3 separate regions of the Homo sapiens genome follow, and regions 2 and 3 are each reported to be linked to region 1. The links are microRNA targets in miRTarBase. Many come from high-throughput screens and were not tested one by one. Region 1 holds a microRNA gene; each other region holds the end of a gene's coding sequence.

Region 1 (3,348 bases):
ATTAAAAATAACTCCTCACCGGGTGCGGTGGCTCATGCCTGTAATCCCAGCAGTTTGGGAGGCCGAGGCAGGTGGATTAGTTGAGGTCAGGAGTTTGAGACCAGCCGGACCAACATGGCAAAACCCCGATTCTACCAAAAGGACAAAAATTAGCCGGGGTGGCGGCATGCACCTGAAATCCCAGCTACTCAGGAGGCTGAGGCAGGAGAATCGCTTGAACCCGGAAGGCGTAGGTTGCAGTGAGCCGAGATCATGCCACTGCACTCCAGCCTGGGCGACAAGAATGAGACTCCATCTCAAACAAACAAACAAACAAACAAACAAAATTCCTACACACAAGTGCTTGCTTTGGCAGCACAAAAAAATACAAATAATAATTAAAAAAAAAAAAAAAAACACCCTGCAGTCCGAGCAGGGTGGCTCATGCCTGTAATCCCACCACTTTGGAAAGCAGAGGCGGGCAGATCACCTGAGGTCAGGAGTTCAAGACTAACCTGGCCAATGTGGTGAAACTCCATCTCTGCTAAAAATACAAAAATTAGCCAGGCGTGGTGGCACGTGCCTATAATACCAGCTACTTGGGAGGCCGAGGTTGCAGTGAGCAGAGAATGTGTCACTGCCTGCCCGCCTGGCCCACATAGTGAGACTCTGTCTCAAGAACAAAAACAACAAAAAAAGTAGGGGGGACCAACTAGCCTAAGAGGTCTAGGTTGGAAGCGCCACCGCACTCCTGCCCGGGCAACAGAAACCCTGTGTTGCAAAAAAACTAAACAAAAACAGAACCCCAACATCATGCAAGTCTGATGATAAGCACGCTCTGCAAATGCGTTACCAAGATCAGCATCAACTTCAACGTGGTTTTTCTCAAACAGTAACACTCTAAAAGGAGGCACTTTGTTTTCTTTCAAACAGAAAGTGCTCCCTTTTGGAGAATGACTGCATGAGATCTTCTCGCTCCAAAACTCTGGGTTTTTGTTGGAATTTTCCTTACCAGGTTAAAATGGACACAAAAATAAAGATGCATTCATTGTCCCTGTTTGCATGTTTTCTGGAATCCAGAACATAAACCCCTAAAAGGACCATCTCCAGTTCCTTGCTTCAAAGGCTCAGCAGGTTAGCCTTGTTCACGAAGGGGCAACCCTCCTGAGTATTGTCTCCAAAGAGAAAAAGCAAAGCCTACCACACATACCTTATATTTAACCAAGAGAATTGGGCTGGATTTCTAGAGAACAGCAATGGATTTTGAGCCATGTGTTCACTTGAGTTCCAGCACAGGGACACACAGTCCCGATGGGAGCAACCAAAATGGAATCTAAGATGATATTTAAGAATATACGTTGTGGGCCAGGCACAGTGGCTCATGCCTGTAATCCCAGCACTTTGCGAGGCCGAGGCAGGTGGATCACCTAAGGTCAGGAGTTCAAGACTAATCTGGCCATCATGATGAAACTCCGTCTCTGCTAAAAATACAAAAATTAGCCAGGCGTGGTGGCATGTGCCTGTAATACCAGCTACTCGGGAGGCAGAGGTTGCAGTGAGCAGAGAACATACCACTGCACTCCAGCCTGGGCCACAGAGAGAGACTGTCTCAAGAGAAAAAAAAGGGGGAGGGGGTGGGGGCAGGGACCAACTGAGCCCAAGAGGTCTAGGTTGGAAGTGTCACCGCACTCCAGCCTGGGCAAGAGACCCTGTGTTGCAAAAAAACTAAACAAAAACAGAACCCCAACATCATGCAAGTCTGATGATAAGCACGCTCTGCAAATGTGTTACCAAGATCAGCATCAACTTCAACGTGGTTTTTCTCAAACAGTAACGCTCCAAAAGAAGGCACTCTGCTTTCAGACAACAGAAAGTGCTTTCTTTTGGAGAATGACTGCATGAGATCTTCTCACTCCAAAACTCTGGGTTTTTTGTTGGAATTTACCTTACCAGATTAAAATGAACACAAAAATAAAGATGCATTCATTGGCCAGGCGCGGTGGCTCACGCCTGGAATCCCAACACTTTGGGAGGCTGGTCAAGAGACCACGACCATCCTGGCCAACATGGTGAAACTCCGTCTCTACTAAAAATACAACCATTTGCCGCCTGTGGTGGCATGTACCTGTAGTCCCAGCTACTCGGGAGGCTGAGGCAGGGGAATTACTTGAACCAGGAGGCAGAAGTTGCAGTGAGCCGAGATCGTGCCACTGCACTCCAGACTGGCAAGAGTAAGACTCCATCTCAAAAAAAAATAAAAATAAAAATAAAAAAGGTGCATTCATTGCCCCTGTTTGCATGTTTTATGGAATCCAGAACATAAACCCCTGAAAGGACCATCTCCAGTTCCTTGCTTCAAAGGCTTAGCAGGTTAGCCTTGTTCATCAAGGGGCAATCCTCCTGAGTTTTGTCCCCAAAGAGAAAAAGCAATGCCTACCACACATACCTTATCTTTAACCAAGAGAATTGGGCTGGATTTCTAAGGATGTTGAGCCAGTGTTCACTTGAGTTCCAGCACAGAAACACACAGTCCTGATGGGAACATCCAAAATGGAATCTAAGATAATGTTTAAGAATATACATTGTTGTACACACAAATACCCTCCAGGACAGACCACAGGCTAGGCCGTAAAAGCTCCTCAGTAAGATTTGACAGAGCTGGGGGGAAAAAAAGAATGTACATTGTCACACACACGAACATTCTTCAGGATAGACCACAGGCTAGGCTGTAAAACCTCAATAATTTTTTTTCTTGGAGACTAAGTTAGGAAAAACAAATGCCCACACCTAAACAACCAATCATTTCTAGTTCAAGTACATCTCAAGTATACTGTTGACCTGAAATAGAAAGTTAACCGGGTTTCCCTGCTCTGGGAAGCCCCCTTTGGTAATTCAGTTAAGGGTCTCCTTTGGAAGGTAATGGGTAGGAACATGGAGATGTCAGCCAAGGGAAGTGACTCTCAGGGATTTCTATGGATTATGCAGATGCCCTGCCAGATCCCAAACTTCCCCAAAAGATCCTAAGTCCAGGCAGGAAGGACCACTGGGGTCCAGAAACCAAATGAAGTGGCCCTGGGCAGGAGTCTCTGTTGTCAGATTCCATGACTAAGACAGCCAGGGAGCAGAGTGAAAATCCCAGGGGCTCTCTCTCCAGGAGACACCTGCTCCATCCAGATCAAACCCAAAATGTCCCCAGCCAGTGATGCCTGGCTCTCCTTTCCCCTCGGCTCATCCTGCCTGCATCGGTGCAGTGCCCTGACGTTCCCAGTCCAGAGGGTGGAGGTTGCAGTGAGGGGAGATCACAGACTGTCAGAGCCTTCCTCTCTCCTTGCCTATGCATGGGTTAATATTCACCTGAAGTCCCAGCTA
Region 2 (3,000 bases), not on the chromosome of region 1:
AAATGTGACCTCTGGGAAAAGCGGCACGTCCTGTTCGAGGATGCCTGCACACTGGCTGAGAAGTACGGCCTCCTGGCCGTTTTGGAGACATCTGCCAAGGAGTCAAAGAACATAGAAGAAGTCTTCGTGCTCATGGCCAAGGAGCTGATCGCGCGCAACAGCCTGCACCTATATGGGGAGAGTGCCCTGAACGGCCTCCCCCTGGACTCCAGCCCCGTTCTTATGGCCCAGGGTCCAAGTGAAAAGACCCACTGCACTTGCTAAGATGTTTGCAAAGCCAGTTGCACCCACCAAAGAGGCCGCCTCTGAAACCAAAGGTAGCCAGGATACCGTAGTGTTGCCCCAGTGGCGCTTTAGACCCCAGCGTGGACTTGCCGCTCACCCCTAATCCTCCCAGTCTGGATGGGCCACACTTCTCCCTTGACTCACACCACAGGTCATAGCTGCTGACTCTCAGGAAAACCAGCACCATTGTTTTCACTGACTCTTGACTCCTGGAGAAGGCAGGACTTCAGGCTAGGAGAGGGAGGACGAAGTGTACTCTTCTCCCCTTTCACTTTTCTGTCTCCCTAGAGCTTCTGCTGCTTTCTACTGAATTTTGTTTCTTGCTTGAAGAAGAGGGTAGTGAAGGAAAGGAGGAAGGCAAAACAGCAAGAGAGAGAAGAGGCTGTTTGGAACATTCTGGAACAGTTTGAAACAGCTCAGGCAGGGAGAATGGAACGAAAGCCTGCAATGAGAAACCAGAATGCTGCTATCATTTTGTTCCTGACATTCACACCTCAGGTCTTCACTTTGGGGAGCGAAGCCTTTTAGCAGAAATACCAGAAGTACCATCTTGCCAAATGGTCAGGAACTGTCTGATAGAGATGGAACTGGAATTCACTCTATTCTAGCAGGGCTGACTTGGCCACCCTCTTGGGATAGGGGAAGACACCTGCAATTTTTTTTCTTTCTTTTTTTTTTTTTTTTTTTTGAGACAGGGTCATACTCTGTCACCCAAGCTGGAGTATAGTGGTGGGATCTTGGCTCACTGCAACCTCTACCTCCTGGGTTCAAGAGGTTCTCCCACCTCAGTCTCCCAAGTGGCTGGGACTACAGACACACGCCACCACTCCTGGCTAATTTTTGTATTTTTTGTAGAGACAAGGTTTCACCATGTTGCTCAGGCTGATCTTGAACTCCTGAGCTCAGGTGATCTGCCCACCTTGGCTTCCCAAAGTGCTGGGATTACAGGCATGAGCCACCATGCCTGTTCTTTTTTTTTTTTTTTTTTTTTGAGACTGAGTCTCACTCTGTCACTCAGGCTGGAATGCAGTGGCATGATCTCGGCTCACTGCAACCTCAACCTCCACCTCCTGGGTTCAAGCAATTCTCCTGCCTCAGCCTCCCAAGTAGCTGGGACTACTGGCACTCACTACCACGCCCAGCTCATTTTTTTTGTATATTTAGTAGAGACTGGGTTTCACTACGTTGGTCAGGCTGGTCTTGAACTCCTGACCTCATGATCCACCCGTCTCGGCCTCCTAAAGTGCTGGGATTACAGGCATGAGCCACCATGCCCGGCCCTTTTTTTTTTTTTTTTGAGACAGAGTTTCGCTCTTGTTGCCCAGGCTGGAGTGCAATGGTGTGACCTCGGCTCACTGCAACTTCTGCCTTCCAGATTCAAGTGATTCTCCTGCCTCAACCTCCCTAGTAGCTGGGATTACAGCCTCCCGCCACCACGCCTAGCTAATTTTTGTGTTTTTAGTAGAGGCAGGGTTTCACCACGTTGGCCAGGCTGGTCTCGAACTCCTGACCTCATGATCCACCTGTCTCGTGGCCTCCCAAAGTGCTGGGATTACAGGTGTGAACCACCGCACCTGGCCTTTTTTTATTATTATTATTGTAGAAATGAAGTCTTGCTACGTTGCCCAGGCTGGTCTCCAATTCCTGAGCTCACAGGTTTCTCCCACCTCAGCCTCCCAAAGTGCTGGGATTACAGGCATGAGCCACCATGCCTGGCACAATTTCTTTCTAGAACCCAAATCATCTGCCAGATCAGAAGTCATTTTTAAATTAAAATTAAATTGGTTCATAGATGAATATCAAGCCAGTGTTGTACTGCCCCTTCTGTAAGATATGGCCAGAGAGCAGCTGGTGCCTTCTGGGATGGAGTAACTGCGGCTTTCAGAACTAAACACGTAAGAGGAGGCTGGAAGTCACCAGGCACCCCTCGTTTCCAGGACTGTGTTAGGGGACATCAGGGCAGGCAGCAGGAGCAGGCCACGGAGCCCCTCCAGGGTCCCAGGGAACTGTGGACACTCACCTGGGGCTTCCGGAGGACAAACACCACTTATGATTGCAGCTGACATTTACTGAGCTGCTTCTCATGGCCAGAAGTTGTGTGAGGTCTGGGGAAAGCAAATGGTCCCTTTGGTTTGTGATGCCAGTGGAGGGGAAAAGAGGTACCAGCCGCATTCTGCTGCTCCTCTTTTTTTTTGAGACGGAGTCTCGCTCTGTCACCCAGGCTGGAGTGCAATGGTGTGATCTTGGCTCACTGCAACCTCCACCTCCCAGGTTCAAGTGATTCTCCTGCCTCAGCCTCCCGAGTAGCTGGGATTACGGGGGTATACCACCACACCTGGATAATTTTTGTATTTTTAGTAGAGACAGGGTTTCACCATGTTGGTCAGGCTGGTCTTGAACTCCTGACCTCAGGTGATCCACCTGCCTCAGCCTCCCAAAGTGCTGGAATTACAGGCTTGAGCCACTGCACCTGGCCTGCTGCTCCTCTTAACACCCTTGGACTTCCTGGCATCCTCTCATCCAGCAGTAGCTCTCAGTTCCCCCTTTCCCTGCGCCACATTTTTTTTTTTTTTTTTTGAGGCAGCGTCTCACTCTGTTGCCCAAGTTAGAGTGCAGTGGTGTCATCTCAGCTCACTGCAACCTCCACCTCCCAGGTTCAAGCGATTCTCCTGCCTCAGCCTCCTGAGTAGCTGGGACTACAGGCGCATGCCACCA
Region 3 (3,000 bases), not on the chromosome of region 1:
TCACACGCCACTGATGGCCCCTCATCATCCCCAAGACTGAGGCTGCTGCTCTCTGTGACTTGGCACAGCCTCCAGGCATGGGGTTCCTAACTCTACCTGCCTGCATTCTTGCCCTATTTGTGGCTGTGACAGGCAGGGCAGGGCTGAGGGACACCAGGTGAACGAGGGCCCCTGCTCTCTTTCAGAACCAACACTATCATCCTGGTAGATGCGGACGGCCACGTGACCTTCACTGAGCGTAGCATGATGGACAAGGACCTCTCCCACTGGGAGACCAGAACCTATGAGTTCACACTGCAGAGCTAACCCCACCTCTGGGCCTGGCCAGTGGGCTCCTGGGGGGCCCTGCCTTGAGGGGCACTGTGGACAGGAAACCTTCCTTTGCCATACTGCATTGCACTGCCCGTGGCTTGGCCAGCATCCCCCGGATCAGGGCCCTGTGGTTTGCGTGTTACCCATCTGTGTCCCCATGCCCAGTTCAGGGTCTGCCTTTATGCCAGTGAGGAGCAGCAGAGTCTGATACTAGGTCTAGGACCGGCCGAGGTATACCATGAACATGTGGATACACCTGAGCCCACTCTTGCACATGTACACAGGCACTCACATGGCACACACATACACTCCTGCGTGTGCACAAGCACACACATGCAAGCCATATACATGGACACCGACACAGGCACATGTACGTGCACAGGTGTGCTACACATGTGCACACATGCACAGTTGCACAGACACACACACACAGGTGCACACACACGATGCCGAACAAGGCAGAAGGGCGACTCTCACCTCTCATGTGCTTCTGGCCAGTAGGTCTTTGTTCTGGTCCAACGACAGGAGTAGGCTTGTATTTAAAAGCGGCCCCTCCTCTCCTGTGGCCACAGAACACAGGCGTGCTTGGACTCTTGACAAGCAGACCTGCTCCTGCAGAGGAGACAGCCACATTTGGAATTGGGCACCGAGAAGACCTGAGAAAAACCCACTCTCTCTTTTTTTTTTTTTTGAGACGGAGTCTTGCTCTGTCACCCAGGCTGGAGTGCAGTGGCACGATCTCGGCTCACTGCAACCTCCGCCTCCCAAGTTCAAGCAATTCTCCTGCCCCAGCCTCCTGATTAGCTGGGATTACAGGCGTGTGCCACCATGCCCAGCTAATTTTTGTGTTTTTAGTAGAGACGGGGTTTCACCATGTTGGTCAGGCTGGTCTTGAACTCCTGACGTGGTGATCCACCTGCCTCGGCCTCCCAAAGTGCTGGGATTACAGGCGTGAGCCACCACGCCTGGCCGAAAAACCCACTCTCATAACAGAAGTGCAGACTCATTGCTAGATTCAGTGCCCTTGAGTGTGCCAGAGGTCCTCTGTGTTTGAGACAATCCTGTGTGTGCCAGGAGGCTCCGTGTGCACCAGGGGCTCTCAGAATCCCGCTTACCCAGCTGGAGACCATGCCTCTGGCAGCCCCATCTCAGCCAGCCCTGCTCTCTCCCTCTTCCCTCCAGGTGAGGCAAACTTCATAGGAATCTGTACCTGAATGTGAGCTCCTGATAATAAAACTCTGAGGCTTTGGTGAGCGCATTTCGAGGCCTTTCCCTTGTATGCAGGGTGCCAGTGGGAGCTGCTATGTCTCCTGTGCAGCCAGACACCCTGGACGAGGCCCTTCCCACCTCCCCCTTTCCTCACGGCTTCTTCAGCACCACATGTGGATGCCTGTGGGTCAGTCCATCTGTCCATGGGCAGGGGCCGCTGTGAGAGACCCCATGCGCGTGGGATGTGGTAGATGCTGATTATGGGGCCAGCCACCCATACAGGTCTATCAGGTCGCAATGGAGGCCCCACTGGAGCGGGAGGCAGGCTGGCCTGGACTTCTGTTGGATGATGGGGGCCAGGGGATGGTAGGAGGGGCAGGAGAGCAGGTCTGCATCTGTCTCAGCCCCAGGAGCTCCTGGTTTGGGGCCAGCTCTAAGGAGCTTCATCCCTGAGCCTGGCCGAGTATAAGGGGGTCCCGGATATCCAATGCTGAGACCTAGACTTTTCTAAGCCTCTGCACCCAACCCCTAACTTGGCCTTTTCAGACCCATGAGAGTGCAGGGTGGGTGTGGACCTGCGCCAGGGCTTCCCAGCCTGATTGTGACATGATGTGAGTCCACCTAGGGAGGAGCAGGGGCCTCCCCGTCTCTTCCCCTTCTTGCCCAGACCACTTTGCTGGGCTCAGAGCCTTCCATGGCTCACTTTGAACTCAGAAGAGTTTCCCAGCTGCGACCCAGGCTGCACCCCCAGGCCTGAGGAGAAACTGAGGCCCCACATCCCATACGTGTCCTCTGAGTCAGGACAACAGGCTCCCGGCTGGGGGCACTGCCCTTGCTGCCAACACATTCACCTGCCCCAGTGGCTACCATGTCCTGTGCCGGTGACCAGTGCCAGTCCCCAACCTGGATGGTGCCCTGCCCTCATGAAGAGCCCCCCGGATGTTCACCTCTGCCCAGAGACCCGGCCTGCCCAGGAAGAGCAGTCTCTGCTCTTGTGTGGGTCCCTCTGCCCCCACCCTGCCCAGGGCTCCCCAGCAGCCTGAGGCCCCTAAGGAAGAACAGCCCTCAATGGTGATTCTATTGGTGTTATGAGTTGTGTCCCCAAAGAGATATATCAGTGTCCTGACCCACAGTACCTCAGAATGTGACTGCATTTGGAGATAGGGTTCTTCCAGGGGTAACCAAGGTAGAATGAGGTCGTTAGTGTGGGCCCTAATCCAATATGACGGCTATCCTTATAAAAAGAGGAACATTTAGGCTGGATACAGTGGCTCATGCCTATAATCCCAGCACCTTGGGAGGCTGAGGCAGGAGGACTGCTTGAGCTCAGGAGTTCAAGACCAGCCTGGGGCAACATGTCGAAACGCTGTGTCTACCAAAAAAAAAAAAAAAAAATACAAAAATTAGCTGGCCATTGTGACTCACACCTGTAGTGCGAGGCTGAGGTGGGAGAATCGCTTGAACCCAGGAGGCAGAGGT

Evidence for each region. The annotated mature microRNA hsa-miR-515-5p reads UUCUCCAAAAGAAAGCACUUUCUG and lies in region 1 at 1,847-1,870, opposite strand. An mRNA with a match to its seed (bases 2 to 7 or 8) in the 3' UTR can be bound and repressed. Matches are read on the target gene's strand: a 7mer-m8 pairs with bases 2 to 8, a 7mer-A1 pairs with bases 2 to 7 and ends in A, and an 8mer does both.
Region 2: miRTarBase lists RAB19 as a target of hsa-miR-515-5p. Seed matches in the 3' UTR shown: 7mer-A1 at 496-502.
Region 3: the mRNA of TANGO2 is a reported target of hsa-miR-515-5p. Seed matches in the 3' UTR shown: 7mer-m8 at 2,676-2,682.

What each region holds. Positions count from the first base shown.
Region 1 is chr19:53,677,538-53,680,885 of GRCh38, reverse strand. It overlaps MIR515-1 (microRNA 515-1), which reads right to left and starts at 1,883; the gene lies at 1,801-1,883. MIR519E (microRNA 519e) reads right to left here and starts at 946; the gene lies at 863-946. All of the region lies in intron 2 of LOC107985342 (a long non-coding RNA gene), which reads right to left. RefSeq lists an enhancer at 2,691-3,191.
Region 2 is chr7:140,425,887-140,428,886 of GRCh38, forward strand. RAB19 (RAB19, member RAS oncogene family) reads left to right here. Exons shown (of 4, transcript NM_001008749.3): 4 at 1-2,088. The coding sequence ends at 264. Among named protein-coding and RNA genes, the nearest start is that of RAB19, 23 kb to the left of the region's middle.
Region 3 is chr22:20,064,357-20,067,356 of GRCh38, forward strand. It overlaps TANGO2 (transport and golgi organization 2 homolog), which reads left to right. Exons shown (of 9, transcript NM_152906.7): 9 at 186-2,808. The coding sequence ends at 306. Among named protein-coding and RNA genes, the nearest start is that of DGCR8, 14 kb to the right of the region's middle. RefSeq lists an enhancer at 1,752-2,252.